Linked DNA regions of Homo sapiens: regions 1, 2, 3, 4 and 6 are each reported to be linked to region 5. Evidence: microRNA targets listed by miRTarBase, many of them from high-throughput screens and not tested one by one. Region 5 holds a microRNA gene; each other region holds the end of a gene's coding sequence.

Region 1 (5,073 bases), not on the chromosome of region 5:
TTTCACCACTTAGTAATGGGGATGTTTTGTGCAAGCGTCCTAGAGTGTACTCATACAAACCTCAGTGGAGTAGCTTGCTACAATCACTCCTAGGCCCTATGGGACAGCCTTTTGATCCTAGGCTACAAACCTGTACAGCTGTTACTGTCCTGAATACTGTAGGCCGTTGTAACACAGTGTTACTTGTGTATCTAAACATAGAAAAGGTACCATAAAAATGTGGTAGGATAATCTTACAAGACCACCATTATATATGCAGTCTGTTTTTGACCGAAACGTCATGTGGCACATGACTGTATTTAAACAATTTGTCATTTGCCTTTTAATAATAAAGAATGAGGCTGGGCGCGGTGTCTACTACCTGTAATCTCAGCAGTTTGGGAGGCCAAGGTGGGCGGATCACGAGGTCAGGGGTTCAAGACCAGCCTGGCCAACATAATGAAACCCTATCTCTACTAAAAAACAAAAATTAGCTGGGCGCGGTGGTGGGCACCTGTGGTCCCAGCTACTTGGGAGGCTGAGGCAAGAGAATCGCTTGAACCTGGGAGGCGGAGGTTGCAGTGAGCTGAGATCGCACCACTGCATTCCAGCCTGGGTGACACCGCAAGACTCTGTCTCAAAAAAAAAAATAAAAATAGTTATAATAATAATAAAGAATGAACTATAATGAAATATTTTCAGACATGAATAAGTTGGGGATTTAGAAACATGTGACCAGCCTTTTACTGTTTTAAAACTCTTTAGGTGACATTGACATCAAGTAACTCGCCTGCTTTGTTCTTTTTTGGAGGCCTGTGTCACTTGTGAAAATGAAGATTCAGCTGATGGTGCGGCCACATCCTGTGGTCAGGTTCTGGTAGAAGACAGCTGTTGAGTGACTGTGAGGATGAACCTTCATACCCTTTCCAAGACGTGTTACACAGACAGACCTTTTTAAGTCCTGGACTTTTAAATGACCATGAAGTTATCATTGAATGTTAAGATTTTTTCTTCTTGATTTTTTAATACACGTAATCTTTTTGAAGCAGACATTGTATACAGAATCTTACTTCTCTTTGTTCCTGATATATTAAAATGGCCAGTTAGGCTCTTTTTGTAGTTGAATTGTCTTCTAAAGAGATTGGATGGCCTCTAAAGAGGTATGTGTATCTTTATTTCAGATGTCACCCAGAGTAAATTATAATTAGAAGTATAGCTAGAATGAGCCCCAAACCTTAGCCTCATTTATTTTGTTCTGTTACATAAGTCATTTTCCCCTTAGAGTGCTTGAAGAAATGCCACCTACAGGTTGTGTACTTTTCATAATGGTTTCCATGAATGTAGTACGTTCATACAGGCTTCATTCAACCTGGCGTTCCCCTCCATAATTAAGATGAAACATTCCGGTTTTCTCACAACACATTAGCACATACTGTCCATTAGCATATCTGGGATAACCAGGTTTTGGGGGTTGAGTTTTGGCCTTCATCCTTGTAGATCCCTTTCCTATTGATTTCCCACCTTCCAGTGAAATTCTGAAAGTCTTATCTTAAAAATCGATCCGCTTACCATGGGCCTATTCTTGTAAGTTTCAGTTAGCATTTGCATGTGTAATATTAAAATGAAAGAGCTTCTTACCCAGTGCTGTTGCCCTTTTGAGTATTTTTGTTTTTAAAATAATGATTGTAAAATGTTTTACAAGTAATGTAAAAGCTAGTATCATTCTTACATACTTCTGTGTTTAAATTTTCATTCTTACCAAAACAGTTAACTCTTTCTTTCCAATCAATTTATACAAAAGAGGTCGCTCCAGCCCTACCACAGGTCTGACTGGCACTGCCTTTTGTTTGCCCTTGAACAGGGCAGTGTTGTGGGGACTGCAAAAGAGAAAACGTCCAGGCGAGCCCAGTTGTCCTCGCCCACAGGGTCCTGCAGGCTCCATCAGTCACCGCTTTCTATGGCGTTTGTAGTTGTGTCTTTTAAGAAGTGAGTGTGATTGTTTACTTGATAAATCAGCTCACTCTCTGGTGCTTTTTAGAGAAGTCCCTGATTCCTTCTTAAACTTGGAATGATAGATGAAATTCACACCCCTGCAGATCAGAAAAAACAAATAGAAGAAAATGAGGGTTACAGTAACCTGTTGTCTTTATATAACTTGCAACAAACTAATTTATTTTTTTTTCCTTTTTTTGTTTTTGGTTTTTTATGGTTTTTTAAGGAAAATACTTTTCTCCTTTGAAGTTTTACAGCTTTTTGTAAATGCGTCCTGATAATGATTAGGAAAATCGACCTTTTCATCCATGATGACCATCCTCATAGCTCAGATCTCCTTTCAAAGTAGTGGCTTTCTGGATGGTAATTCCATCTTAAGGTGTCAGAACTATTTTCAAATGCTGCCTTTGACAGTTCTTGGAATTTTCTGATATTAAGCAGTTCCATGCAAATATTCGTGTTTTATAAATAGCTCTCATAGTCTGCTCCATCTTGATAGTTAAGTGATTTCTGAAGCGTTTGTGTGTGTGTTGATCAGGTTGTGTGATATTTTTGCTTGATAGAGAATCAAATTTGAAACAATTAACCAGCCAGTAGATTGTCTGTCAGTGACCTTCTGTAGTAATAAAGTTTTTGCCACTGTAAATAAAAACAGTATCCGTAGCTATCAGGATCATTGCGCACTCATATATGCTAAGCCTTCTGTTCTCTAATAGAAGCCTTTCTTTTCCATTGTTTCTGGATATTTGTATTATCCAAATGTGCTTATTTCTTTGCCTTAGCACACGTTTTATGGAGTACTTGTTATACTAGGTTTGATTTGAAACTGGTGCTTGTCGCAGAACTGTCAGAGCATGAGGAGCGCTCCTCCTGTGGGTGGACGCATTCACGCACTCCCAGGTTGCACCTGCTGCTGGCGGTGAGCAGGGGGTTCAGCAGCTTGACCGATGCCCCCCGAGGGGGCTCTCCCCAGCTTAAACTTTGTTGTTTAAATTTGTTAACTTTTTATATTAATGACTATTGAAAGTGGTAATAAAAATTTATATTATAGGCTTCAATGTTTTCATGAATGTTACCCAAAAAGCTGTGTTTTCTTTGGTCAGAGGTCAAAATTTATGAAAAACAAAATGCTGTATGAATGGAAATCATTTTGCAATTGAGTGACACTTCATTGTAATTCACAGTGTAAATTTAATCCAAACTGAAATTTTGTTTCAACTGAATTTGTAATTAACTCTGAATTTGTTTTTAATCATTAGTAATATTTCAGTTGGGTATCTTTTTAAGTAAAAACAACAAATAAACTCTGTACATGTAAAACGTGAGAAATTGTCCTGCCCTGTGTCAACAAATCTTTGAATGTGTATTCTGTATCATTTAGAAGTGCTTCTTATGATCTATTGAGGGGCCCTCATATTAGTTAACCTTGTGTTTCTCAGGCACATTCTGTGTTTGCCTTGGCCAATGTGTCTGAGCACCTACTATGTGGAGGATGAAGATGCAGGCACTTTGAAATGTATTGGCTTATTTAGCCCTTTTACACCTAGTGTTCCATTATTGGAACGCTAAGCTTGTGGGAGCTAGGGTGAACCTGTGTACAAGATCTGACTGTGTAACTGGTGGCAACAAAATCTAGAAATTAAAATAGGGAACAAGATCCTGAAGCCAACAGAGCTTTTTAAAGTTTACACCTTTCAGACCATTTGCACCTTTCTTTTCTATAACAAACCATAATAAGAGCAGGAAGAAAAATAGCTAAGTATACTTTGCGTGTATACTACTCTGACAGGTGCTGGTCTAAGTGCTTGATGTGAATTATTTAATCCTCACAACTGCCCTGTGAAATAAGCATTGTGTTATTGTCATTTTACAGAGAAGTAAACTGAGGCAGGGGGAGTCAAGTAACTGGATCAGAGACTCACAGCTGGTGTGCACTGGGAGTAGGAATCTGACCCTAGAAACCTGATGCAAAGCCCCAATCTGTATGAATCATCACCTGATACACTAAAATGAGTAGGGACTTCAGAATTCTGCAGTGGAATTCCACTTTTAAGTTATCTCTGATACAGGAATAGTTTTATGGTGCCAACATTGTGTTCCAGAGAACTGGTTTAATTTCAACACTGAGAGACACACCACAGTGTTATCATAGCTGTCCTCAATGTTAGCATGTTTCTGAGCTTGCACATTCATTCCAGTTTAAAACATCTCTCCCTTAGATTTGTTCTTGATGTCTTTTTTTTTTTTTTTTTTTTTTTGAGACGGAGCCTCGCTCTGTTGCCAGGCTGGAGGGCAGTGGTGCAATCTCCGCTCACTGCAAGCTCCACCTCCTGGGTTCACGCTATTCTCCTGCCTCAGCCTCCCGAGTAGCTGGGACTACAAGCCCGCCACCATGCCCGGCTAATTTTTTTGTATTTTTAGTAGAGACGAGGTTTCACCATGTTAGCCAGGATGGTCTCGATCTCCTGACCTCGTGATCCACCCGCCTCAGCCTCCCAAAGTGCTGGGATTGCAGGCTTGAGCCACCCCACCCGGCCAAGTTCTTGATGTCTTTAGGGTAAACGCTCTGAGACCTGTACTCTCTAGGAAACTTGTGATGGTCAGTGACAAGATTGACACAAGTCGTGTGTTGCTCTTTGGTTGTTGCAGACCCCTCTGGAATGTGGTGGGATGTCAGAGCTCAATGAGAGAAACAAGTTTCTCATAAACATCCAGGCCTCCCCTATACATGGTTCTGTGTAGAACCACACAGAACTCTCAGGAGTTCACACTGTATATTCTATACATACATAAACCACATTTATACAGATGTATTCACGGAATAGAAGTCAGTACTTACACACATAGTTTTTAAAAATTCGTAAGCCAGGCTCTTTCTTCCACAATCTTAAATCTTGCCTCAGCTTTCTTCTCTCTGCAAGAGACATCAAGGTGTTTTTCCCGGTGTAAGAAACTGTGATCCTTGAGCTCACAGACGCTGAGATCATACAAGTTTCAATGTTAAAAGATTAAAATTGTCAAGTGTTCAGGACTTTGGTCAGCCAAGAGAAAGAATCTCAGCACATGAACTTCCCCCACGAACTTCAGAAACCAAGGAGCATC
Region 2 (5,073 bases), not on the chromosome of region 5:
CAATTTGGGAGGCCAAGGAGGGCGGATCACCTGAGGTCAGGAGTTCAAGACCAGCCTAGCCAACATGGTGAAACCCCATCTCTAATAAAAATACAAAAAATAATTAGCCGGGTATGGTGGTGTGCTCCTGTAATCCCGGCTACTTGGGAGGCTGAGGCAGGAGAATCACTTGGGTCTGGGAGGCGGAGGTTGCAGTGAGCTGAGATTACACCACTGCACTCCAGCCTGGGCGACAGAGCAAGGCTCTGTCTCAAAAAAAAAAAAAAAAAAAAAAAAAAAAAGGCAGCTGGGTGCAGTGGCTCACGTCTGTAATCCCAGAACTTTAGGAGGCAGAGGCGGGCAGATCACCTGAGGTCAGGAGTTCAAGACCAGCCTGGCCAACATGGCGAAAATCTGTCTCTACTAAAAATACAAAAATTAGCCAAGCGTGGTGGCGGGCGCCTGTAATCCCAGCTACTTGGGAGGCTAAGGCAGGAGGAACACTTGAGCCTGGGAGGCAGAGGTTGCAGTGAGCTGAGATCATACCATTGAACGCCAGCCTGGGAGGCAGAGGTTGCAGTGAGCTGAGATCATACCACTGAACGCCAGCCTGGGCGTCAGAGTGAGACTCCATCTCAAAAAAGAAATAAAAATTTAAAAATGAAAAAATAAAAAAAAGGCATGAGGACACTCTCTGTAATGGGCTAATAATGGAAAAACCTCTGCGATATAAGCCCAACATGTATTCCGTGCTACTATTTCCACACAAGAAGGGAAAAAAATCCAATTAGGCACTGCCAAGTCTCTTTGGATAATTACGTGGTTTCCTTTGGGGAGGAAAATGAGGGAAAGGGGTAGGTTTTTACATCTGTCTTGTCTTTAGATTTTGAGCCATGTGAATGTGTTACCTTTTCAAAACAAGAACTAAAATAGAAAATGCATCTTGGGTATACCCTCTGGTTCAGCAGTTCCGGGGCTAGATCCTACAGCTACATCCCTGCCCAGGCAGGAGGGTGTATGTGGGAAGTATTCGCTGCAGCATTGCTTAGGGTGCAGAAACAGCCTGAATGCCCCGCAGCAGGGACTGGCTAACGGTGGCCCATTCACACAAGGAAGCCTGAGGCGGTCTGCTCCTACTGATAGGGAAAGAGCTCCAGAAACGACTGTCAGGTCAGAGAAGCGATGTGCTAGCAGTGTCTAGGTAGGCCATCATTCGTTTAGTAAAACTCTATATGGATTTGCTTATACACATGTGCAGAATATCCCTGGAGGAAAATCAAAATCTAGTGACAATGTCTGCCTTCAAGGGAGGAAAATTAAGGACTGAGGATGGGGTGGGAGGGAGAACTTTATTCTCTGGCTGGCTGACCTCACCATGGTCCTGAATTACTTGCTCCACAAAAATGAACGCAAACCACTAGCTGAAAATTAAACAACGTAAAACCAGGTCCCGCAACAGCCTTGGCAGTGTCTGGTGCACAGGGGAGCCCATCGGCCCTTGGGTATGTGTTGGACCCTCCAGAAATAACTGGTTGCTGTTGTTGGATTTCCTGATTGGCTGGGAAGGTTCAAGACACTTGGGAATCTTCCCAAGAAAAGTCTGGGAAGTTCCCCAAGCTGCGGGATGCCAAGGCCTCCAAGAGGCGAGACGGGGAGGCCTGAGCGTGTCAGGACCAGGAAGTGCCACATGAGCAGGAGGGAGGCGGCCTGTGATGACCCTCAGAGGTGAGGGAGGGACAGGGAAGCTGAAGGGCACAGACTGGCTATGCCCTGAGGTACTCTTCCTAAAGGCAGGGGCCCAAAGTAGCATCCTGTGTGTCTATTCTCCTGATGCAGTAGTGTGGGGGACTGGGAGCATGAAGGCCCTCCCTGCCTCAGTTTCCCTGCATGTAAACTAAGCCGCATTATATGCTTAGTCCAGTATATGCTGGGTCGCCTTATGCTGAGCACTGTGGGGGTGAAAGAGGGGCCCAACTGTAGTGAGGCACCGCTCACAATCACCTGAGGCTTGAGCAGACTCATTCAAACACAAGGTGTCTAGGGATGGTCCTCCTTTCTTGCCAGCTCTCCTCACCCGGGTGGCTTGTCCTGGGCCTCCGGTGGGGACAGCGATCCCACACTTGCACTCTTCCGACCTTGCAATGGAGGGGTGGGGAGGTGAAGTGCCAAGCTCCCTGAATGGCTGAGCTGGCAGGCCATGGGCGTGGTGGCCCGTGCAGCTGCTTCCCAGGCAGAGTGCGAAGGTATTGGGCTCAGGGGAGGCAGACGACACGGCAGGGTGAGAGTCCCTCTCATTAAGGGCTCACCAACCTCTAGTTCCATGGCAGGGCAGGGACTCCAGATGCATTTGGGCAGAGACTCTCAGGCGAGGCAAGAACCAGGGTTGCACAGTCAAGGGCCTTGGTTGGTTCTGGACTCTTTGGAGGGGCCACAGCTGGGCACACAGCTCGAGCCCTTGACCCTGGGGTCCCCAGGGCAGCACAGTGACACCACAGAGGTCAGAGGTGGGGCAGTGGAGGGCCAGGTGCCCCTGTGATGCCCTGCAAGAGGGCAGGCTGTCTCACCCAGCTTCCAGCAGCCAGGAAGGCAGCGGTGTGTGTGAGGTGGGCAGCATGTGGGGGGACTAAGTGCAGACAGAACACGAGGGAGCGGCTGGAGCTGAAACAGGCTGAGGGACACCTGGGCTGCTCCTCCCTCAGAAGCAGGCTGAGGCCCACCAGCCAGGAGGCAGCTCAGCCGATGAAGCCCTGCCCAGGGTCTGGCCACCCTCACTGGGAGCCAGGCCAGTGCCAGGACTGGGGCCACACAAGGTGTCCTCGGTGGCGGCTGGCCTGGTCCACACGCCCACCCCCTCTCCCACGGCTGCCCCTGATCAGGGGATCTCCCACGGCCCCTGGAGCCTCCCAGATGGCAGGGAGCTGGGGAAAACCACAAGGGGAGCCCAGCCTTCTGGCCAGCATCACAAGGCGAGGCATTGTCAGCTCTGGGGGAGGTGGGATCAATGGCAGGAGAGGGGTCAGGGACAGCAGCAGGCCGCAGCAGTCAGTTTGCCAAGGATAGGATGGAGGGAAGGCGCTGTCCTCAGAGTGCCACGGGAGGGGCTGCTGCCGCACATACCACTGGAGCCTTTGACCCTGGGGTCCCTGCAGCCCGGGACTCCTGCCCAGAAGAGCCTCGGGCCTGACACACTGGCTGGGGACACACTTGATGTCATCATTTTTATTCATTTTCTCTTTCTGAAAATAAGAGTAAACATACAATATATATTTTCTGATGATATATATTAGATCTAGTTACCGTAGGGTCAGAAAACCATCCCCAACCACTCGGAGGCAGCTTTCAATCCTGACATTCGGTGGAGGGGAAAAAAGTGTCCGTGATTGCCAAAAGCCGAATCTTTCTTTATTATTACACAGCAGTAACAGGAAAACCTAATGCTCTGTCAGACACAACTGAAACCTGGGAGGCCAGGAGGAGGGCAGCAGACACTACAGAGAAACCCCGAAGAAACCCAAACAGGAGGCGCACCCGCTTACCCAGCCCCATCTCTCGGCCCAGTCTTTGTGGCAGGAGGCCTGGGCTCAGAGGCGACACTGAGGAATGTATCACAGGCAGTGACCACCCTTGGGGCAGAAGTGGGGAGTTGGGGATAGTGCAGCTGCCAGTCGGTGGGGAGCCCGAGACAGGGGCTCTGGGAGCTTCTGCCTGGTCTTGACCATGTGGGTCAGCACTCGGGAGGCTGTGGCCCAACTGGCACAGCTGCAGGGCACCAGCCTGGTGGTTGCAAGTGGGTGGTGCAGGCCCTGGGCTCCTCCCAGCCTAGCTCTGCCCCTCTGCCGGCACCTACAGCTCCTTGAGCCCCAGGCCCTAAGTGAGCAGCTCTCCTGGTACCAAGGGGAACCCCTCCCTGCACACCCAGGCCAGGTTGGCAGGGTCCATCCCATGAGAGGTGGCAGTGGAGGGCCCTTTAACACCAACCGGAGAGACCAAGGAGCCAGGGGCTGCCGGGGCTGTGAGCCGGAGGGGCAAGCTCCACACTCACCCTTCAGGCACAGCTTCTGTGGCTGCTCTGGCTCTGTTTCCTTTGGTCCCCACCTCACTTAACCCCACATCACAGCCACAGGAGCAGGGGTGTCCCAGAGCACGGGAGTGCACTGCGCTCTCACCCCAGGAGGGGGTGGTGCCCTACCCCAGGGATCGGGTGGGTTCTGCCATCAGGACCAGGGAGCCCACTGAGTGGCCTGGAGCCCCGCCTGGTCCCTCCTGCGAGGAGGAAGATGTGCTGCCCCCGAGGGGCCTCCTCGATGGGGCGGGCAGAAGGCTGGGGTGGGCGCTGGCCGGGGTCTCAGTTCTTGAGGATGGTCTCGTAGGCCTGGTACACGTGCTGGGACACCTCTGGTGCTCGACACTTCAGGGACAGCTGCAGGGGAGAGAGGGGTCGGGGGAAAGAGCGCTCATCCCTGGGGTTCCTCTCAGGAAGGAAAGGGGTGGGGAAGAGAGCAGGAACCAATGGGACAGCGTGGAGTGCACACAGCCTGGCGGCAGCTGCGCCTGGCACAGATGTGAGGTAAAGCGGAGGGGGCGGCTGTCGCAGCCAGCCGGGTGTGGACCAAATATACTTGCAGCCCACACACCTGCTGTCAGCCCAGTCACCAGAGCCCTGCTGGCGAGCAGTGTGAGTCACGAGCCGGAGGCTGCCAGGGAGTGCCCGGCCCCCACCCTGAGGGCTGCCCGGCCCCCCAGAGTCCCTGAAGGTCTGGGGTCCTCAGGACTGAAGCCTGACAGAAAATCCCGAGGGGGTGCGGAGGGCTGGGAGGGAGCCTGGAGGGGTGCTGGGCTCATTCCTGGTTTCCTGCGTAGGAAGCAGGCACGGTAGAGACTTTGCCTCCGCTCTGGGGCCTGAGCTTGAGATCACAGGCAGAGGAGAGAGGAGCCCCCACCCATCCACTCTAAAGCACTGGTTCTGCAGGGTGCAGTTAGGAAGTGGGAACAATGGAGTTCCGCAGGTCAGCAGCAGCCCACGGGCCCTCCAGGTCTCCTAGGAAGGACTCTGTGCACACTGTGAATGTGTGGAAGTGGGGTGTCAGCACCTCA
Region 3 (5,073 bases), not on the chromosome of region 5:
CTTCCCCCCAAGAACAGAGCTTCAGTGTCTGGCCACGGGCAGCCGGGCCCCTGCTACTTCTAGTCTGGGTTGGAAGAACAAAGCCCCTCCTCCCCCCTTCCCTGGGCAGAAGGGAAAGGGGGTGAGGCCCGGGGAAGAGATGGTGGGGCTGGGCGCCAGCTGAAGCCATGGAGGAACCCAGGAAGGGGCTGGGTGCCAAGCTGACGCCCCAGCCAAAGCCTTCGCTCTGGGACAGGCCGACTCAGTCAGGCCACAGAGCAGGAACTCTGCAGGGTCTGCTTAAAGGTTCCCCTTCCCTAGGAGCTCCTGCCAGGGTACTTGGCAAGGGGGAGGGCCCTTGGACCCAGCCCTCAACCTTCTTTCACCTCATCTTTGGATCTAGAACTTTCCATCCACCTTCTTCTTTCAAGGCCCTCCTTTGCTGCTTCAGGGTTAGGGTTTCAGGATTCCTGGGGTCAAATCCTGGCAAACAGTCAGGTGGACCACATGAGATTCAGGGAGCACCACATGGGCTCCCCATGCCCCCATGTGTCCCCACATTCCAAGAAGCCCCTCCCTGGTCACTGGCCCAAAAGGCAAGCCAGTACCTAAAAGCCACATTGGAGTGGCCCAGGGAGAGGGAGCGGTTCAGCTAATCCCATGATGGTCTGTTCCCATCCCATCCCTCCAGCCTGAGCAGTAGAACCAGCCTGCCCTCTGATCCCCAAAGGAATGTAAAAAGGAGCCCCAGCAGGCTCAGGAGGTGGGAACCAGGGGTGGGTGGCCAGGGCATCAGTGCTACCTCTTCTCAGTCTGAGGCCCCTACTTCCCCAGGAGCTCCCTCCCTCCTCAGGACCCCCTCACCCCATCCTCTGACAACCCACAACCCTCTCCTCTCTGCCAGGAGAACAGTCGTGAAGCCCTGGCAGAGGCAGCCTTGGAGAGCCCCAGGCCAGCCCTGGTGAGATCCGCCTCCAGTGACACCAGCGAGGAGGTAGGCCAGCCATGCGGGGGGTGGCAACTGGGTTACAGGAAGCCGATTCCCAGGCCCCACTTGTTCCTGGCACACCAGCCTGCCTTTGAGGTCACATGCTGAGCCGCATTCTGTTCTTGTGACCTGGCTTCCCTGGGCACGGCCCCAACGGAGCCACCTCACCAAGGCTGAGGACCAGGGAGCCTAATGAGGGACTGACTCCCAACTTCCTGCCCCCACTTCTCTTTACAGCTGAATTCCCAAGACAGCCCCCCAAAACAGGACTCCACAGCGCCCTCGTCTACCTCCTCCTCCGACCCCATCCTAGACTTCAACATCTCCCTGGCCATGGCCAAAGAGAGGGCCCACCAGAAACGCAGCAGCAAACGGGCCCCGCAGATGGACTGGAGCAAGAAAAACGAACTCTTCAGCAACCTCTGAGCGCCCTGCTGCCACCCAGTGACTGGCAGGGCCGAGCCAGCATTCCACCCCACCTTTTTCCTTCTCCCCAATTACTCCCCTGAATCAATGTACAAATCAGCACCCACATCCCCTTTCTTGACAAATGATTTTTCTAGAGAACTATGTTCTTCCCTGACTTTAGGGAAGGTGAATGTGTTCCCGTCCTCCCGCAGTCAGAAAGGAGACTCTGCCTCCCTCCTCCTCACTGAGTGCCTCATCCTACCGGGTGTCCCTTTGCCACCCTGCCTGGGACATCGCTGGAACCTGCACCATGCCAGGATCATGGGACCAGGCGAGAGGGCACCCTCCCTTCCTCCCCCATGTGATAAATGGGTCCAGGGCTGATCAAAGAACTCTGACTGCAGAACTGCCGCTCTCAGTGGACAGGGCATCTGTTACCCTGAGACCTGTGGCAGACACGTCTTGTTTTCATTTGATTTTTGTTAAGAGTGCAGTATTGCAGAGTCTAGAGGAATTTTTGTTTCCTTGATTAACATGATTTTCCTGGTTGTTACATCCAGGGCATGGCAGTGGCCTCAGCCTTAAACTTTTGTTCCTACTCCCACCCTCAGCGAACTGGGCAGCACGGGGAGGGTTTGGCTACCCCTGCCCATCCCTGAGCCAGGTACCACCATTGTAAGGAAACACTTTCAGAAATTCAGCTGGTTCCTCCAAACCCTTCAGCCTCCGTGTGTTCCTTGGAAGTTTTGTCCTCTGGCCTTGGACCCCTTATAGGTAGAAATTGAGAAATGGTAAGCCAAGGTGGTCTTTGGCTGGGAGGGTGGGGTACACTGGAGGGAGGGCCATCAAGGGCTCCCTGTGACCCCAAGCCTGGGTAGCTTTAGCTAGAGGGCCTAGCTGCAGTCCTGTAGGAAGGAAGATGCATGCACCCAGCCGGGTATTCAGCTTGGTGTGGTCAGTGTGCCTGTGTGCTGGGCTGCAAGCACCGATTGTGGGCTGGGGACCCCTTGTCTAACGGGGATATTTACAAGGGGAAGTGGGAGCTCAGACCAACGTTCTCAGAGGACTCTGGGAGGTTCCTTTAATTCCAGAAGCGTGGAAAGTGTGTCCCAGGATGGAGCTGGGTTTGGAATGTGAGGACTTGGCTTTACTCTTTCTGCCTATAGCCAGTGGGGTGCAGAATTCCCAGGGGCAGGCTGGGCTGGTGCCAGATCCTCTATCTTATCTGGCCATTGTGACCTGATTGGAGGGCAAGTGTCCAGTGCCAGGGGAAAACAAACCGGTCCACTGAGCCCGGGGACATGCTGTGTGGCTAGCTGGGGTGGAAGGGACTGTTCAAGGGCAAGGTGCCCTGCCCCCAACAAAAGACCCAGGTCCCTGATACCTTTGGCACCTGAAGCCTGATCTGGAGGTCCAGGAAGGTGGCTTGCAAGAGCTAGGCTGCAGAGCCGGGAGGTTCCGGGCAGGTGCTCAGGAGGAAGGTGCCCCCAGGCTAGTCTCCACCCAACCCAAAGGGACACCTCTCAGAAAATAGGCTCCTGGGCTGAGGGGAATGAGTAAAGCAGGTAGATCTGGAATCAGGGAGTGGACAGTGTCCCCCAGGCCAGTCACTATCTGGCCATCTCCTGCTCCTTGTCAGAGGAACCATCCAAAACCCTTACCACAGCAGTGCCCTGCTCAGCTGACCTGCCCCCACCCCACCCTTGCTTCTACCCTTTGGCCCCTGACAGATTCCCCTCCACAGGGGTCGTGGAGGGCCCCTCCCTATCTCACCTGCTGGGTGGGGAAGCCCTGGGGGACCTTTGACTCTTCATTAACCTGAAGACTGGTGGAAGGAATGGGTGGCCCCAAGGGAACTCTCATTGCTGAGGTACACATGGTACGAAGGGAGCCACGGCAAGCAACGCGTTCGTTTTATAATGTTTGTTTTATACTGAGGCATGTTTTCGGTTCCAGTTGTTCACATGCAGTCTGCTGTGAGACTCCAAGATCAAGGGTGCTGGGAGGCCTTAGGCAAGTCACCTTACTTATCTAAGACTGTTTCCCCACCTGGAAGATGCCCTACAAGCCTCCTGTGGCTGTGTTTAGAAAGCATGCCCGGCCTTTCTTGACAGCCAGCCACCCCAGATGATGGCAGGGCAAGGAAGACTGTTAGGAGTCAGAGTGCTCCCCTCAGGTGGAAGGAAACTGGGCCAACTCTACTTTGTAAGCCATAGGGTGCCAGGTAGCCCGGCCACCCTGAGCCTGTGCCTCCACTGCCCCCGCGTGGCCAGTCAGGTGCAGCTGCTCCCAGAGATGGAGGGTGAGGAACAGACGTGGGAGCACCAGAGGGACAGAGCTGATGGCCTGACGCTCTCTTCAGGAGGGCACCCCCAAGGGGCCTCTGCTTCCTCAGTGCCCCCTGAGCTTTATCAGCAGAGGGGTGTTTTCCAGCCACAAGGAGCTGTATCTAACACTAATGCCTTTAAACTCAAGACTGGCTCCAGGAGAGAGGAGGACGGACACTAGGTTGAGGGGCCAGGCCACACTCACTCTGGACCACCTGTTGTTCCCGGGTCAAGTTCCCAGGGTCACACCAGCCTGCCTCTGCAGGACAAGAGGACCAAGCTGCCCTTGAGTGGACACTGTGAGGCTGGGGCTCGTGGTAGCTCTTCACATGGACCAAACGGGAAAATCAGGAAAGCTGGTAGTGCCTGGAGCTTCACTCCCAGCCAGGGCAGCACCTCTGGCCTCTAAGGAGAAAGGCCTGTCCACTCCCATCCATGTTCCAGGTCCCCCTGCACCTCCAGCTCCCACCTTCATCCCGACATCTCCCATGGATCCCTGCCCTCCATTCCAGCTTCCTAGAGTCTGGGTCTGGGTTTGGCCGGGAGGGGAGAAGGGAACTGGCCCTGGCCCTGGAGTCTGCTCAGCCACACCACTAGCTGGAGGGAGGCCACAGCAAGCCCCGCCAGAGTCTGAAGGGCCTCGAAAGGTGATTCCCAGCCTGGGCCAGGAGCACTCTCCCAGTGCAGGGCTCTGGTCTTTGAAGTGTATGGGCCCAACACCCTGCTCACACAGAGTGGCTGCCCACAAGGCCCAGCCATCAGCAGGGCTCTGCCGACCCATCTCTGTAAGGCTTCTCTTCCACGTGGCTGGTCTGCTCCAGAAGCCACTGATGCTCGGACTCACTCACTGTCAGTCTGAGGGTCACCTCCTGAAAAACACTGCTCGTAGCCACCTACGTGAGCCAGAGAGAACAAAGCCTGCTAAGTTACAGTATTACCACCACCAGGCCCACCACCCAGGTCTAAGCCCCACTCTGCCCCAGGACATCCTTACCTGCTCAAAGTGAAGTTTCTGGAACATCCGGATGCTTGGTTCATTTCCTTGCCCAATTTTAGCCTCAAACTTGGTCAGACCTAGCGTGGTCACTCCTCGCAGAGGAGATGAGACAGGGGCAAGTAAGGAGGCGCCTGCCCCCACCCTCCTGTCCCAAGCTGCAGAGGAGGAACCTTCACCTGCCCCCAACCCTCACACCTGAACAAAGTTCACCTGGGGCCTGCCCACTTCCCGCATTGTCTGCTCACACTTTCTTACCGTAAGACAGCATCGCGAGAACGGCCTCAGTGCCAAGGCCCTTACCCCTGCAGCTGGGCTCTAGGAGAGACAACAGGAGCGGCGCTGACGCCGTGTGCCAGGCTCCAGTGCGGGCACTT
Region 4 (5,073 bases), not on the chromosome of region 5:
TCTAACTTTACCATCTGATTCATGGTCTTAACATCATGCATGGTAGTTTCCAATGACTCTGAGAGACAAAAGGTTTAAAAGGTACACTAAAACATTAAAAATTCAACAAACTTTATATATCTGAAGGTACACAGAATATTTAGATGCTGGGGCAGAGTGTGGCTAGAATACATATGTCCCTTTTACCAAGAGAAGAGATCACTGCAAAGATTATTCCAGTACTCCAAAATGCTTTTTTGCCGTAAAAATGTGGTTTAGCAAGCAAAAGAAGTAAGAAAAACAGAGATACGAAAGGGAATATATTATGTAGTTATTTTGAGTGTCTTTATTTCTTATTTTTATTTTGGAGACAGGGTCTACCTCTGTCACCCAGGCTGGAGTGCAGTGGCACAATATGGCTCACTGCAGCCTCAAACTCCTGGACTCAAGCGATCCTCCCACCTCAGCCTCCTGAATAGCTGGGACTACTGGCATGTGCCACTGCACCCAGTTAATTTTTGAGTGTCTATTAAAAAGAGAAATATAAAATCCGGATGTCTTCAAAGGTTCCAAAATTGTCACCATGAATTGTTTGTAATTCTGTCTTTTTCCCTCCCCTCTTGTTAGATCTCAGTCTGTGGTAGAAGCTGGGACCCTGAAACATGAGGAGAAGGGAGAGAATGAGAACACCCAGCCACTCCTGGCTCTGGACTGAACCCTGAGTCACCCCAATGCTCCTGCACACTGGCCTTCAGTGGTATCAGCCACCCAGGAAGCACATGCACAACTGACCCATGCAGACACGTGTGTTCTGCTTGACACAAGGTCCTCCACTCCTGAACCCCTGCAGTGACTGTCACCAGCCATCGGTCTGAGCAGCCAAAGTTGGACAAAGACTTGAGAGATGCTTTTTTTTTCCCCCAGTGAGGGGACTGGAGGATGATGCAAGGCATTTATGTAAAAAAGATTCTCCCTCCTTTCATATTTATTGTAGTAAATTGAAAAAATAAAGACTAAATTTGATGGACACACTGCATTAGGACAAGAATTTTTCTGAGGTATCACACAGGGACCCTCTCCAGTTTTTGAAAATTAAGTGCATTTCCAAGTAAATGTATCAGAGTTAAACTGTACAGACACCACTGTCAAGTTTCATGTAGTACAAAGCCCTGAGACAATAGTATCTCCAGTAATTTCCATTCTTACTGAATTATTTCCTTTGACCTCATCACCAGCATCGAATTGTTCAGCCTAAGAGCATGTTCTCATAGGTCTGGGTATTTGCAAAGTTTGCTTATTTTGATGATATCCTGCAAAAAATTATTTTGATGTCACATCTCTTGTCAGGTCACTAGCTGACTGTCATGAGCTGACGTTAAAGGAAGACACATGGACGTGAAATACGATTATTTCATCTGAGCAATGTGAGTTACCACAGGCAGCTCAAAAGCCCATTAGTGCAGCATGTGTCTGCAGAGGAGATGTCTCATGAAAATCACATGTCAGTGATTAATGAATCCATTCCAGTTGCCTCAACTGGGTCACTACAGCAAAGAAAAGTGCTATCAAACCATTTACCCTTGCCCCCACAACCCTCCTGCAACCATTAAAGATGTGGAGAAAGACCATGGTTGTTGCTGAGAGGGTAAATATTCAATCATGGAGCATGACCCATATGGATGGCTAAATATGCAAGTACTGAAGTAAGAGAAGACTAGAAATGCAGGATGAAATGTCAAAGGTCATTTTATTTACCTAGTCTCCTTAGAAATGGAGTCCCCAACTACTCATTCAAAAGAAATCAGACATAAAATAAACAGACATCATATATGATATCCTTACTTGTGCCATGTTTTCCAAGACCAGTGCATATTTTTAGACATCTCTTATTCGCCCAGCCATCTGCATGACATGGGTATTTATTAGTATTACCAGTTGGTGCTCAAAGTCAAACAAAAATATTTTAGTTAATAATGGGCAGTAAAATATGATTTTACATTATTTTAAATATTTGGGAGAGTTAATTTGTTAGCTAAATAATTCAAGGGAAAGAGATTATTCAACTGGTCATAATCACCCCTGATAATATTATTACTAATCTTAATTATTTATTACATCATCTCTTTCTCAATGGATCTAATGTTTTAATTTTTTCCCCTATTGGTAGAGAACAATAACAGAAGTAATTTTTATATTATACACTTGGAGAAATAAAGTTGAAACAGAATTAAAAATATTTCTCAAACAACTGTATCACAATATAAATTAAACTAATTCATTTTTGTGTAGACATACGAAATCACAAAAATAATAACACTGAAATAATTCTACCAATGCAGTGATGGAAACACTTTTCTTATGTACCAAGACATAGATAGGTAAGAGAAATAAAGAATTGAAGTGAATTAGAAAATCCATTTTATTGCTTGGGTTTAAAATAGTTGTGGGATACAAGTATTTACAATGCTATTGGAGTCAATTATTGACAACACTTTGCAACAGTAATACCATTTCTAGCTTTTCAATTGGCAATACTTAGAACCTTACTGTAGTGACCTGATTTTAAATACCATATTATATTTACTAAGTTAAGAGCTAGTTTTTACTCTCTTCCATAATTTCATTACATGAATGTAAGATGATGGCTCAAAAATGACGACTTATAGTTTGAATTTATGTGTATGCAATATACATATGAGAACCAAATTCAACAAGTGACATGAATGTTACTACATGAACATTGAATTGTATTGCCCTTGTCAGTTATTTCCTCTGTTCAATAAATACTGAAGGTCACAAACACCTTTTTACTTTTCAAGAGTTTGCCTTCTCTTCTCGATTTTAGTAATTAATTTGGATATTTTTCCTCCCATGCCTCTTCATCTGATTTAGTGGGATGTTTTCAATACCAGCAAAACAAAAGAACAGGAAAAGTATTTTGCAAACTCATCTACTGGAAGCTAATCTCCTTAAGGTCAAGCAAAAAGGGTCAATTTCAATTTCAAAGAGCTGTTCTTTAAATGAGATAAAGAAAGTCTCCTTTTGTTTTTAGATGGAAAAGAAAGCACAAGTTTTTTCTACCTGTGAATGAACTTTGGTGACCTATATGTGCCATTCATGCAGCATTTTTGTTCATATTGGCTTAGAATTCAGTGCATGAATATCATTACATTCTTATATCTAACATTCCTAGTTAGCTTTGATTCAAAATATACAAAATCTGATACATGAATACTTTGCTAGATTAATGACTTGATCATCTTTGGAATGAGTAGGCAAGACGATTTTTACCTATTATTTCTATGTTGTGGGTAATGTTAAAACTAAATACAGATGATAATAATTGCTATTTCACAGTGATGTTTAAAATGGCAGAGATTTCTCAAGCCAGAGAGATGGGACAGTCTTCCAAACTCTTTCATCAAAAAGGAAAGTAATCTGGACCTCCTACGCCCAAGAAAAACATCCTGGCATTCTTGGTAACCTTTTACTCTGCCATCCTTAATCTTTCTACAGAATTGTAGCAGAAATCATCTCCAAGACTGAAGAGCTGGCTTCCTGACATTCACATGGATCTACCATAGGCAAAGACACTGTGTTCCCAGCCCTTGCCTCATGGATGGCAAAGCCGCCAGGAGCCAGACACCCTAGCAGCCACCTATCCACCCAACCCTGAAAGAACATAGTTTTATTTCCGTGAACTATACTTTTTCCCCAGAAGCTCTAATAATTGGCATTAAAAAAATTTGCATCTGGGATTTTTATAACAATATAAAATAATTCCATGCTCTTTTTTCGGTGTGAAAAGTTCCTCTTTGAAAGAAATAGGATTTTGTCAATATCTCCACCACTAGCATAGTGAGAAGAGGATCTCAATCAAGATAAAAAAAACCAAACGATTTGAGAGTTGGGATGGGTACAGTTCATAGACACTGACATAATGAGCTCTTTCTTTTTTGTTAGGAAAATAAAACTGCTTTTTTCATGAGTATCTTTTACTAAGAAGAATTAAAAGAGGGAAGTCTGAGTTCCCCAGTAATGCTACCATTAAATAGCTAGAAGTAAAGCATTTATACAGCTTGTCATTAAAATAAACAAAAATGTAGTGGTACATGATGACAAAATAGTCTAGCTACACTAGAAAAATATAACTGCATAGAAAAATTACAAACTAAAGCAATCCATTCACAGTTTCTACATATGTTCTCATTATACATTGAATTAGACCTATTCTATGTGGAAAAAATATCTTTGGCTGGTAAGGTAGAAGCTATCAAATGTTCACCTTAAATACTGGCAGAAGACCAGTGCTGTCATGAGATGACACACAGCAGGGTGTTTCCTAAATGAATTGCAGCGAGGCAAATATTCCCTTTAGTGTCTTCTGACCCTAGGAGGAGGCTTTGAATTACTCGGGCTGCAAGTCAAGGGAATTGACTCTTGGTGTTCGAAATTCTATCCTCACACCCAAGGAGATGGAACCAGAAAGGCAGCCTCTCTCCAGAGTTTCCCAAGCTTGCATGAATTCATGCTAAATTGCTGGAAGGCTGCGTCTCTGCTGTGGTGTCAGTTCCGGATGCCACACATCCACGATGAATATCAGCCGGAAAGATGAGGCATCCTGCCATACCTCGTGCTCAAAGGAGTCATCAAAGATGAGCACCTTGCCTTCCTCCCAGGTCCTGCAGCAGAAAGACAAGGATTCCTGAATATAGTTTTGTGTGGTTCAGATGTCTGAGGATCGATTCCTGTCCATGTGCGAGAACTACCTTTGGTAACAACCTTTGGGACATAACCAAATAACTAGAACATCAAGCCCAAGTTTATTCTTCCCTTGATGATTAGGAAAGAATTTCAGAAATCTTGCTATGAACATCAGTTTTCATTGCTCAGTGCTGGAGATGTACAAACAACAGAGGATTTGTGATGAAGACATATTGGTCTCATTACATGCCTTGCAATTATTCTGTATATTATTACATGTCTTGCAATTATTCTGGTTTAGACATATGGGCAGTGACTGGGTCTCAGGCATCTCTATGCCTCTCAAGACACTTCCAATCAATTGTCTTTTCAGCTCACTCCACTTGTTCA
Region 5 (5,073 bases):
CCAGTGTAACCAAGCCACAAAGTTACTTTCACCTGTACACAAAATACTCTTAGAGGAATTTTTTTTTAAGTTTCTTTGTTCAAGTGACACCATATCAAGAAAGCCAAGTTCTTCAAGGAAGCAAAGTTCTAAGGTTACCAAGAAGCAGCTAAAAACTAAAGGATCTTAAAAAAAAAAAAAAAAAAAAGATGGCTCATAGCAAGAAAAAATTTAATGGCTGACACAGAGCAGTCACTCAATTTTTATACCAGAAACAAACTTAGTGTATCAAATTTTATGGGAGAAATGATAGGAGTTTGGAAATACCAGGTGGTCTCAGGAGGTCTCTCATAACTGTCAGTTGTTTTATTTGGGGGTAAGGGAGAGTAAACTAATGATAAAATCTGTGAGTTTTAGTTAAAATTCAAATAAACTTCCAGATTCACTCCTCAAGCAATAACTTGCTACAACTGTCACAACCAAAAGTCTTTATCAAAAATATTATTTGCCCACCTTCCTCTGCTGACTTAATCTTTACAAAGATACTAACTCCCTAACGGCCAAATACTAGTTGGAAAGTGCATATTTTAAACGGCAAGGATACAGAGAGAGAGAGAGAAAGAGAGAGAAATCGATCAACACTCTTTTCTTGCTGCTTGATGCTATTCCCCACATCAAAGGGAAAAAAAGTAGAAGGCTCAACAAACATACCTAAGAACACTGGTTCTATAAAAAACTTAATTGGCTGCAAGATTGTCAACAGTTAATAGGTAAATTGTTATATCATGGTATGCATTTTAACTCATAATGGTATTTAGGTTAAAATATCTTAAATAACAGAATAGTTCATATCCTCTTCAAAAATAATTAACTGCAATGTTGACTACTTTGACCCCAGTTTTAGGAATTGAAAGGTATTCAGCAAATACTATTAACACAACTAATTAGAATTCAGTCTCTACACAAAAAGGGAGGTGAGATTATTACTTTCGTTCTTGTGGCAGGTATACTTTAAGTTGGAAGCTACAGTTAAACGTTCATCAAGTTCTATAAACACTTAATTCTCTGTTAGCATTTTATACGCAATATACATTTGAGCATATAATTTTAAAATCAGGTACAAATTATTTGATGAACACTTCTCTGTAACAGAAAAAGCAATTTCAGCTAGTTTTCACAAACTATCCAAATAATTCTTCCCAAAGAACCTAGATTATGAGAACCTACAAAACTCACTATCATAGTGAATTCTAACTTTCACAGACTGTATTCAGAAACTTGACATACGCCCAAGCAAATATCACCTGCACTGAAGGGTCAACATCTCCTTTGAAGTAACACACTTTACTAAAATAACTCTAAACTATGGCTAACTACAGGACAGCCTACTCCAACTGCTAAAAAAACTCTAGTATGGCAGGAAAAAAACTTTGTCCACAGTAGATAAATCCACTGAATTTCTTGCTTGCTTAAATTCAGTATGTGTAATTTAATTATTAAGACATCGTTGCTGAACGATGAAGTTTTAACCAGAAATCCTTGTAAAGGTTTCCAAACAAGGCAAATCAGTGAGCATAAACCCAACCGTTTACCGGGACTCAGAATTCCCGAAATGGAGGCCTAGGGAAGATAATTGCGAAGATTTGGCCAAGTGACCCCACTATCAGCCAAGCTGTCAGTCACCCTGCATTAGCAAGTGCTATTAACACTTAAAAGAGTAGTTTTCTGACATTTACTTACATAGTAATGGTTGCCTAACGCTGTATTCTGCCACTTTTTAATGTTATTGAACGTGAAATTTTCTATTTTCTACTAAACTATCCCACTGTGAATCTTAAATATATAGTACTTAGCACATACTGACCTGAGTTTTTCTCCATCAAATGCCAACTGAGAAAATGTACGGTACCAAGTAAAAACGCATGGGGACAAGTTCAAATAATCTTCCCTTTGTTTATGAGCCATGTATTAAACAGCTGTTAACACCCGTCAAGAGGTTTTCACTAAAATAAAAGTATCCGCCTCTGACACTCAAACGTTTTGGTCAATTGTAACAAAATTAAACCCACTCATCTCTTCACACTGAACGGGGGCGGGGAGAAGGGACGCTAAGGTATGAAAAGGGAAAATGTAAAACTGGGCAAATTTTCTATTTTAAGATTTCCAAATAGTGCCTTTAAAATTTATAAATAGTGCCTGCACTTTTTCTCCAAAAGCAGCCGCTTCTCAAAGAGGATAAACCATTCCCGGAAATGGGCAAAAGAACACACTACAGGGTGCGGACCGCTACAGGCAAGGGCGGACAAGACTGCCAGGAGCAAACGCGTCCAGGAAAGAAGCCGCCCACCGGAAAGTCCCAACTAGAGTTCCCTTCCTTTTCCCCTCGGCGTGCGGCTCCCTGGGTAGGGGGAGGAGAAAGCGCCCGACATGCGCACGCGGCCAGACGTCACTGCGTTCTCTCCCCGCCCCCCAGGGGAGCCGTCTGACGTCACGGGGCGGAGGCTGCCGAAGGCGCCGCCGTTGACCCTGCTGTTACCAGGCGCGCGCACAGCCAATCAGCACCCCGCGCCGGCGCCGGCCGGCCTTTGAACTCGGCACGGCAACTTCCTGCTGTTTGGCGAGTACACAGTGCAATGCAGTATGTCTGTCAGCGCTGCGGCACAAAGGAACAGCCATTTTGTGACTGAGCTGGACCTGCATCAAGATGCCAGGGGCTCAAAGAGCTGCTGCGTGCCCTATCGAACTGCCTTTTATGTCGGCACCAGAGTTCCCCAGAAGAGCAGAGAGGGGGAAGGAAATAGGCTTTGGTATTTCAGATTTCTATTAGTTTAGATTCAGTCTTCTCCAAAATCCCGTTTTTTAATGTATTATCAGCGTCATAAAATGGCTGCCAGTTAAACTGCCTGTTCTAGTACACAAGTAACTGCATTATGCCATTTCTAATCATCCCCAGCCTTTTAGAATATCTGGTAAAGCGCCCCTGAAAATTGTAGGATTTACCCGCACCTCAGGTTATAAAAATAAATCTGGCTCAAAGGCAGACGATTTGGAGATAAATTTAATAAACTCGTTCAATTCTTAAGATAAATTGCTAACGTGGTGCCGTGGAGAACACACTGAACTCTTTGTGTGCACACAGTCCCGTTTTCATTCTTTGATGTTACTTAAGTTATCCCCAAGCTGCAAATTATTCAGATAAAAAGTATGGTATACTTCTCGTATGTCCATCATTAGAACTTTGTTTTAAATACTTAGAAATTTTACAAATATCAATCAAATGTTTTTAAAATCGCGTTTTTTAAAGTTTTTAATTTTCAAAAATCGTGATAAAGTATAACAGACTTTAGCATTAACTTCAAATTAAAATACAAACTTATATAACCACTATTAACTACTGCACTATTTCCAAAAACAGGGTATTACCAGATTTACCTAAACTTGCACTCATTCTTTCCAGATACTAAAGTAATTCTCAGACCAAAGTTTACTTGACCTGCAAACTCATTTCCTCTTCTGTGGCTCAGGCTGCAAAGGTGATTTTCGTAGTATTCCCTAAACACTATACTTTGGGCAATAAAAACTCTGATGGCAGAAGGAACCAAGTACTAATTACAGGGACAGTTCAGCTCAGTAGAAGTAATATTAATCTACCACATTAAAACACCACTAACATTCTACAGCTGCACATTTTAAAAGGAAGTGATGTCATAATTATGTACATGTATTAAGATATGAAATTTAGGGTAACTAATTTAAAAGTAACTATCTTCTTTTCAAAGAGTCTTAAATATTTTTGGACATCCATCAGGTATATGATTCAAAGTATACTTGACAAACCAATTTAAAAGTACAGTCAGTACATGCTTCATGTACAGCTGTAACCTCCACTACCAGTAAGCAAATGCCTGACAACTTCCAGGTAGTTTTCCAGGTGAGAGTAAAAATACTGAAAGAATACCAACACTGCTCAATTTTTTAGAATTAGAAAGCACAGTCTGATCAATGATGTTAACCACAAACCTTGCATAAGAGAGCCAAAACCCATGTGAGACCTATGCAAATGATACACTCAAGGGAGCAACAATTTTAGTGCTGAATCTTTAATAATTTGCCAAATATATCTGGAGGTTCTCATTTCTTCAAATTGTCATTACTTTCCAGAAAAAAACAGCTTAGGATGAGTAAAAAACTTTTCTGTCCTCAATTTAATCTAGTAATTTACATGGGCAATTCAATTAAGACAGCACTACAAACTGGGTGACAACTCAATGCAAAAAAATTTGGTAACTTATTTTCTAAAGCAAGGCTCAATATGCTTTCAGTCAAATAAAATAAATAGAATTCAGCATATTAGTAACACATCATGTTCAAAACTTTCAAATTCACTAGCCTAATAGAAAAGTGTATTATTTATAAAAATTAGAAAAGTAAAAATTGGGAAGGAAAACCACATAATGAATCACATCCTTGTTAAACTGCATGATTTAAAATTTATAATATGAAAATGCATAAAGAACACATCAAAAAATGCATTCATATGTACTTTTAAAAATTAATATACAGAGGTCATACAACAAAAACATCTTAGAGGCTTTATTACTTCATCACTAACAAGGTACTCCAAGGAATGTGAAACAGATCATGATTTGCACAAACAGTACATTTTTAAGCTTCAGAAGATAAAGCATTCCAGACGACTCTGTCGAAATACATCAATAAATTTAAAGCAGCTACATCTAAATTGTGAGGATAAAATACATCTACCAACAGGAAATCAATGTCTTAAGCATACAAATGCAAACCTTAAAATAATTTAAATGTAAAATATACAACTGCAAATATTAATCACAGTAACAAACACAAAATAGAAGTATATATTAAGAGTATTCCAGGATTTCTGTTATTACAGATTTGATTTCATAAATGCAGGAACTCTAACCATCAAGTAAAGGTTTTGATAAATCACATCAAAATTTCCTAAAATGTCAAGTGTATCAAAAGAAATATAAAGTCACATAAAAATATAAACTGAGAGGCATCAGTCAAAGGGTCCTTTAAGTGATTTTGTTTTTAAATGTACATTTTTTCATTCAT
Region 6 (5,059 bases), not on the chromosome of region 5:
TTTGACCCAAAATTTAGCTTAACTTTAGTTATTCTGACCTTGACCTCTGTCTTTATCCCAATTGTGTTTTTACCTGGGCTTTAACCCTCACCCAACTCATCCAGCTCAACTTTTAGTCATATTTCCTCATTCAACTGCAACTCTTACCCTGGTCCTACCTTAATCCCAGCTTGGATCCACCTCATAACTATAATCCCATTCTTAAAGTCCCAACCCAATCAGAATATGTACCCAAAACATCTCCAACCTGAACCCAGCCTTTCAAATCCAGCTGTGCCTTTAAACCCGAGGGCTTTCTTAAGGTCCTGCCTTCCAGAACTCTCTGGACCTTTCCTTCTTGACCATGTTCTCCCTGCTCCAGTGAGCTCAGAAGACCCATGCTCAAAAAAGAGTCACCACCCTCAGAGGCCATCTTGAAGCAGCGACCGTCTGACTTGGGGGCTGGGCTGGGCTGGGATTGGGGTGGGTCACTTGGGGTCTCTTTTCCTGCGTCGGAACTGACCCCTCATGTCCTTCTCTTGGCAGTGTCACCCAGCTCTGGATGGGCAGCGTGGCAAGTGCTGGTGTGTGGACCGGAAGACGGGGGTGAAGCTTCCGGGGGGCCTGGAGCCAAAGGGGGAGCTGGACTGCCACCAGCTGGCTGACAGCTTTCGAGAGTGAGGCCTGCCAGCAGGCCAGGGACTCAGCGTCCCCTGCTACTCCTGTGCTCTGGAGGCTGCAGAGCTGACCCAGAGTGGAGTCTGAGTCTGAGTCCTGTCTCTGCCTGCGGCCCAGAAGTTTCCCTCAAATGCGCGTGTGCACGTGTGCGTGTGCGTGCGTGTGTGTGTGTTTGTGAGCATGGGTGTGCCCTTGGGGTAAGCCAGAGCCTGGGGTGTTCTCTTTGGTGTTACACAGCCCAAGAGGACTGAGACTGGCACTTAGCCCAAGAGGTCTGAGCCCTGGTGTGTTTCCAGATCGATCCTGGATTCACTCACTCACTCATTCCTTCACTCATCCAGCCACCTAAAAACATTTACTGACCATGTACTACGTGCCAGCTCTAGTTTTCAGCCTTGGGAGGTTTTATTCTGACTTCCTCTGATTTTGGCATGTGGAGACACTCCTATAAGGAGAGTTCAAGCCTGTGGGAGTAGAAAAATCTCATTCCCAGAGTCAGAGGAGAAGAGACATGTACCTTGACCATCGTCCTTCCTCTCAAGCTAGCCAGAGGGTGGGAGCCTAAGGAAGCGTGGGGTAGCAGATGGAGTAATGGTCACGAGGTCCAGACCCACTCCCAAAGCTCAGACTTGCCAGGCTCCCTTTCTCTTCTTCCCCAGGTCCTTCCTTTAGGTCTGGTTGTTGCACCATCTGCTTGGTTGGCTGGCAGCTGAGAGCCCTGCTGTGGGAGAGCGAAGGGGGTCAAAGGAAGACTTGAAGCACAGAGGGCTAGGGAGGTGGGGTACATTTCTCTGAGCAGTCAGGGTGGGAAGAAAGAATGCAAGAGTGGACTGAATGTGCCTAATGGAGAAGACCCACGTGCTAGGGGATGAGGGGCTTCCTGGGTCCTGTTCCCTACCCCATTTGTGGTCACAGCCATGAAGTCACCGGGATGAACCTATCCTTCCAGTGGCTCGCTCCCTGTAGCTCTGCCTCCCTCTCCATATCTCCTTCCCCTACACCTCCCTCCCCACACCTCCCTACTCCCCTGGGCATCTTCTGGCTTGACTGGATGGAAGGAGACTTAGGAACCTACCAGTTGGCCATGATGTCTTTTCTTCTTTTTCTTTTTTTTAACAAAACAGAACAAAACCAAAAAATGTCCAGATGATTGTGTTTGGTTGATTTATTCTCAGTTAGACACAGGGATGCACCAGGGGTGGAGAGACGGGGACAGATTTTGGGAGGTGAGTATTGTGTGGTCCCCAGACCTGTCTGTATGGTAAGGGACTGCAGAAGGACGGCCAATCCACCTTCCTCTTCCCTGCAACGGAAGTTTCCTAGGGAACTCCTTGGCTTCAAAGTCTGCGCTGTCTTTACTTAGACTCCTGGTGGGCAAACAATGGCTCCTGAAAGGGGGGCATGACCAAGGACAGCCCTGTGGGGGCAGAGCTGTCTCTGGGATCAGCTGGCATGTGGGGCTGGGGCATTTCCTAGGGCATCGGGCGGACTGGGCTTGCATCTGGATTTGATTTATTAATTTGTTGGGGAGGGGCAGGGACACTGCCCTGCATTTGAGGAAAGGGGGTAGATGCTTCAGCACATTCCACAGCTCTGACTGCCGAGATCTCTGACTCGGGCATTGTGCTGAGATTGGATTCTGAGGTTGGGAGGGGTTGACTTTGCTGTAGACTCAGTGCCAGCCACAGCTTCAGAGATTGTGCTCACATGGTATGCCTGGACTCTTGGCCATCCTCCAAATGCCCCTCCCCTCCCACACCTCTGTGCCTTGTGTGTGTGTGTGCACGCATGTGTGTGGCAGGGGGTGGAGGGTCCGGGAGCAGAAGCTGATCTCTCGGTGGGGGCCTTTTTCCAGGAGGTTGCAGGCAGTCTGGAGACGCTGCATTGAGCCTGCCGCCCGCTGCGCGGGCTCCCTCCTATCTAGCTGTGTCCTGGATTCTCAGCCCCCTCCCCAGCTCCAGAGGCGCTTCCAGGCTTCTGATTTCACTGGGCCCCAACTTTGTTGGCACCTGTCCCGTCTGCATCTTGAGGCTGGGTCTGCAGTTCTGTCTCTCTAGCTCTGCCCCAGCAGCAAAGTCCTGCAGCCATCTGGTCTCCCTGAGGCACCACGGCGGCTGCCAGCAGCAGGAGATAAAGAACAAAGTGGTGTTGAGGGTTGCTTCCTCAGCCCCAGCCACTCTTCACAGAGTCCCCTCCTTCTGGAGCCCAGGCCAAGGCCTGTGGGGATGGGAGGTGGTGCACGCTGAAGATTAAGTTTTAGGTTTCAAGTTTAGGGAAAGTATCTCTTTCCCTAAGGCATCTTTTTCAACCCCCTTGTCTCTAGTCCCCTTCCCGATGCTCTAGGCTTGCACCCTTGGCAGTGGTGGTAGGAGGTCCTTTTTCTTTCATGGGCCTCCCAAAAAAGCCAAATTGGCTTGGAAGTAGCTGTGTGCATGGCCTGGGTGTAACTTCGTGACATACGTGCATTTGTGGAGTATGTGTGTGTGCATGCATGTGAGTATGACGCAGTGACACCTGAAACGTGAGTGTATGGGCTTTTTGGGGGTGTGCATGCCTGTTTGATGTGTGAAGGGAAGGTGTGCCATTTGTGTGGTGTGTATATGTGGTGTGTGCATTTGTGTGGTGTGCATTTGTGTGGTGTGTATATGTGGCGTGTGCATTTGTGTGGTGTGTATATGTGGCGTGTGCATTTGTGTGGTGTGCATTTGTGTGGTGTGTATATGTGGCATGTGAACACGTGTGCGATGTGAGGAGAGAGGGAGTGAGACATTCACGGAGCACGCCTGTCTCTCCTGGCTGTGGATGACTGGACTCTCGCTCATTAGGTGATCCCACCTCAGGGTTTGTGGGGAGATGTCTGACACTAGAGAATGAACATGTGCTTTGGGGAGAGGACTTTCACATCCCACAGAAACACTGCCCTGTCCAGGCTTCATGCCCACAGGATCCTGGAGCCAGGTCCTAAGTACCAAAAAGCAAATAAAAGCAGCTTCTTGTTTGCAGCTAGGCCCTCCCACCCTTGAAACGGTGGGAATACCCAAATGGTCTCTCTAGTTGCCACAGGGGTGTCAGCACCTCTGGGAGATGTGGGAGGGAGGTACTGGTGGCACCACTAAACCTGGATGGACTTGAGAACTGAAGTCCTTGAGTGCTCTGTCCTGCCTCCTGGAGACATGTCATTCCCTCCCACTGACTTGGAGCAGGGGATGGGACATCCCGCCTGCCAACAACCCCTAGCTGATCTACATCAAGCATTTGGTTTCCATTTCCCAGCTCACTAATAGAGATCAAGCCCTGATGTTGGCTGGGGGTTGGGGGCTGGGTTTTCCACTGGCAAGAAGGTGGGGTGGGAGTAGGGAGGAAAAATGGAGACTTGAACTGATTCCAGCCTTGGATTCAGGTTGGGGAATCTCTGGAGAGCTGGCCAAGCCTCTGGGCCCTGCTTGCTCTTCAGGCCCTGAAGTTCCAGCCACTGCCATCTCCCACCTCTTTCCAGGAAAAGGCTGGTTGTCCTAACCCCGCTGTACCCTGAGCCACATTCTGCCACCAAGCTGCTCCAGGAATGTTACGAGGCATGCAGGATTTGGGATGCCTGCTCGGTCCTCTTTCCCAGTGTGGGGGGCTGTTATGTGGCTGTGTGGTAAATGGCCTGAAGTGTTACCTGACAGAGATTCCCCCTGTATTCCAGGCCTCTCTGACCTCGAAAGAGAAAGTCAAGGTGATGTGGTGGAATGGAGCTGGGAGGCAGGCTGGCCTCTGGGATGTTGGGTCAGGACCGTGGGGCAGACTTCTGGGCACACCCATGGAGGAGCAGACACTGCTGCAGCCAACCAAGGGTCTAATTAGATCCTCACTTCCAGAGTGACCTGTCCCCTCTTGTATCTGAAGCTCCAGGGTTGGGGAGGGTGGGGTCAGGGAGTGTAAGTGGAGGGAGTAGCTGCAGATAATTAGAAACATGCTCTACCGAGTGAGCAGGCGCCACCAGGACCACCCCACCCCTCACCCCCACCCCCCACCTCTTTTCCTTAGGTCCCCAGCCCCCTTCCCTTCTACCTGGACAATTCCAGCCAAACTGGGGGAGGCGCTGGTGGAGCCTGGGAGCAGCAACTCGGTGGGATTGGCTTCCTAGGCCCTTACACAGTCTCTAAAGTGCAAACAACATATTTTTGCCATGCTATAGTATTTAATTACACATAAAAACAGAGCCATTAAGCTGAAATTAAACCCTTGTTGGAGTCACTTAATTCAGGGCATGACAAATTGCTTTCAGTGGAGGCGGCAGTGCAGTCCCCCAGGGAAAGATGGAGATTAGTGGCTTCCATGGCTGGCTGGGTCCCCTCCTTCTCTTGGTCCCCTTGCCAGCTCTAAATTCTGAAATTGGGGTCAGAACCCTTTTTCTGAA

What was found. The annotated mature microRNA hsa-miR-3175 reads CGGGGAGAGAACGCAGUGACGU and lies in region 5 at 2,423-2,444, opposite strand. An mRNA with a match to its seed (bases 2 to 7 or 8) in the 3' UTR can be bound and repressed. Matches are read on the target gene's strand: a 7mer-m8 pairs with bases 2 to 8, a 7mer-A1 pairs with bases 2 to 7 and ends in A, and an 8mer does both.
Region 1: miRTarBase lists PER3 as a target of hsa-miR-3175. Seed matches in the 3' UTR shown: 8mer at 2,936-2,943.
Region 2: the mRNA of AP1B1 is a reported target of hsa-miR-3175. Seed matches in the 3' UTR shown: 7mer-A1 at 3,649-3,655 and 7mer-A1 at 3,616-3,622.
Region 3: miRTarBase lists NAT9 as a target of hsa-miR-3175. Seed matches in the 3' UTR shown: 7mer-m8 at 4,248-4,254.
Region 4: the mRNA of ASPH is a reported target of hsa-miR-3175. The part of its 3' UTR that is shown has no 7-base or 8-base seed match.
Region 6: miRTarBase lists IGFBP4 as a target of hsa-miR-3175. Seed matches in the 3' UTR shown: 7mer-A1 at 1,663-1,669.

What each region holds. Positions count from the first base shown.
Region 1 is chr1:7,841,882-7,846,954 of GRCh38, forward strand. It overlaps PER3 (period circadian regulator 3), which reads left to right. Exons shown (of 22, transcript NM_001377275.1): 22 at 791-3,296. The coding sequence ends at 874. Among named protein-coding and RNA genes, the nearest start is that of UTS2, 8.6 kb to the right of the region's middle.
Region 2 is chr22:29,324,497-29,329,569 of GRCh38, forward strand. AP1B1 (adaptor related protein complex 1 subunit beta 1) reads right to left here. Exons shown (of 23, transcript NM_001127.4): 23 at 3,184-4,399. The coding sequence ends at 4,325. Among named protein-coding and RNA genes, the nearest start is that of SNORD125, 6.2 kb to the right of the region's middle.
Region 3 is chr17:74,767,264-74,772,336 of GRCh38, forward strand. NAT9 (N-acetyltransferase 9) reads right to left here. Exons shown (of 7, transcript NM_015654.5): 5 at 4,955-5,014; 6 at 4,697-4,791; 7 at 3,266-4,595. The coding sequence ends at 4,461. NHERF1 (NHERF family PDZ scaffold protein 1) reads left to right here. Exons shown (of 6, transcript NM_004252.5): 5 at 884-973; 6 at 1,205-2,090. The coding sequence ends at 1,393. Among named protein-coding and RNA genes, the nearest start is that of NAT9, 6.5 kb to the right of the region's middle. RefSeq lists a silencer at 3,642-3,741.
Region 4 is chr8:61,498,849-61,503,921 of GRCh38, forward strand. ASPH (aspartate beta-hydroxylase) reads right to left here. Exons shown (of 25, transcript NM_004318.4): 25 at 1,708-4,661. The coding sequence ends at 4,511. CLVS1 (clavesin 1) reads left to right here. Exons shown (of 6, transcript NM_173519.3): 6 at 607-2,781. The coding sequence ends at 694. Among named protein-coding and RNA genes, the nearest start is that of ASPH, 210 kb to the right of the region's middle.
Region 5 is chr15:92,901,779-92,906,851 of GRCh38, reverse strand. It overlaps MIR3175 (microRNA 3175), which reads right to left and starts at 2,453; the gene lies at 2,377-2,453. The region is part of intron 2 of CHD2 (chromodomain helicase DNA binding protein 2); the gene reads right to left. RefSeq lists enhancers at 2,160-2,399, 2,680-2,859, 1,721-2,920 and a silencer at 2,560-2,609.
Region 6 is chr17:40,455,924-40,460,982 of GRCh38, forward strand. IGFBP4 (insulin like growth factor binding protein 4) reads left to right here. Exons shown (of 4, transcript NM_001552.3): 4 at 526-1,802. The coding sequence ends at 660. Among named protein-coding and RNA genes, the nearest start is that of IGFBP4, 15 kb to the left of the region's middle.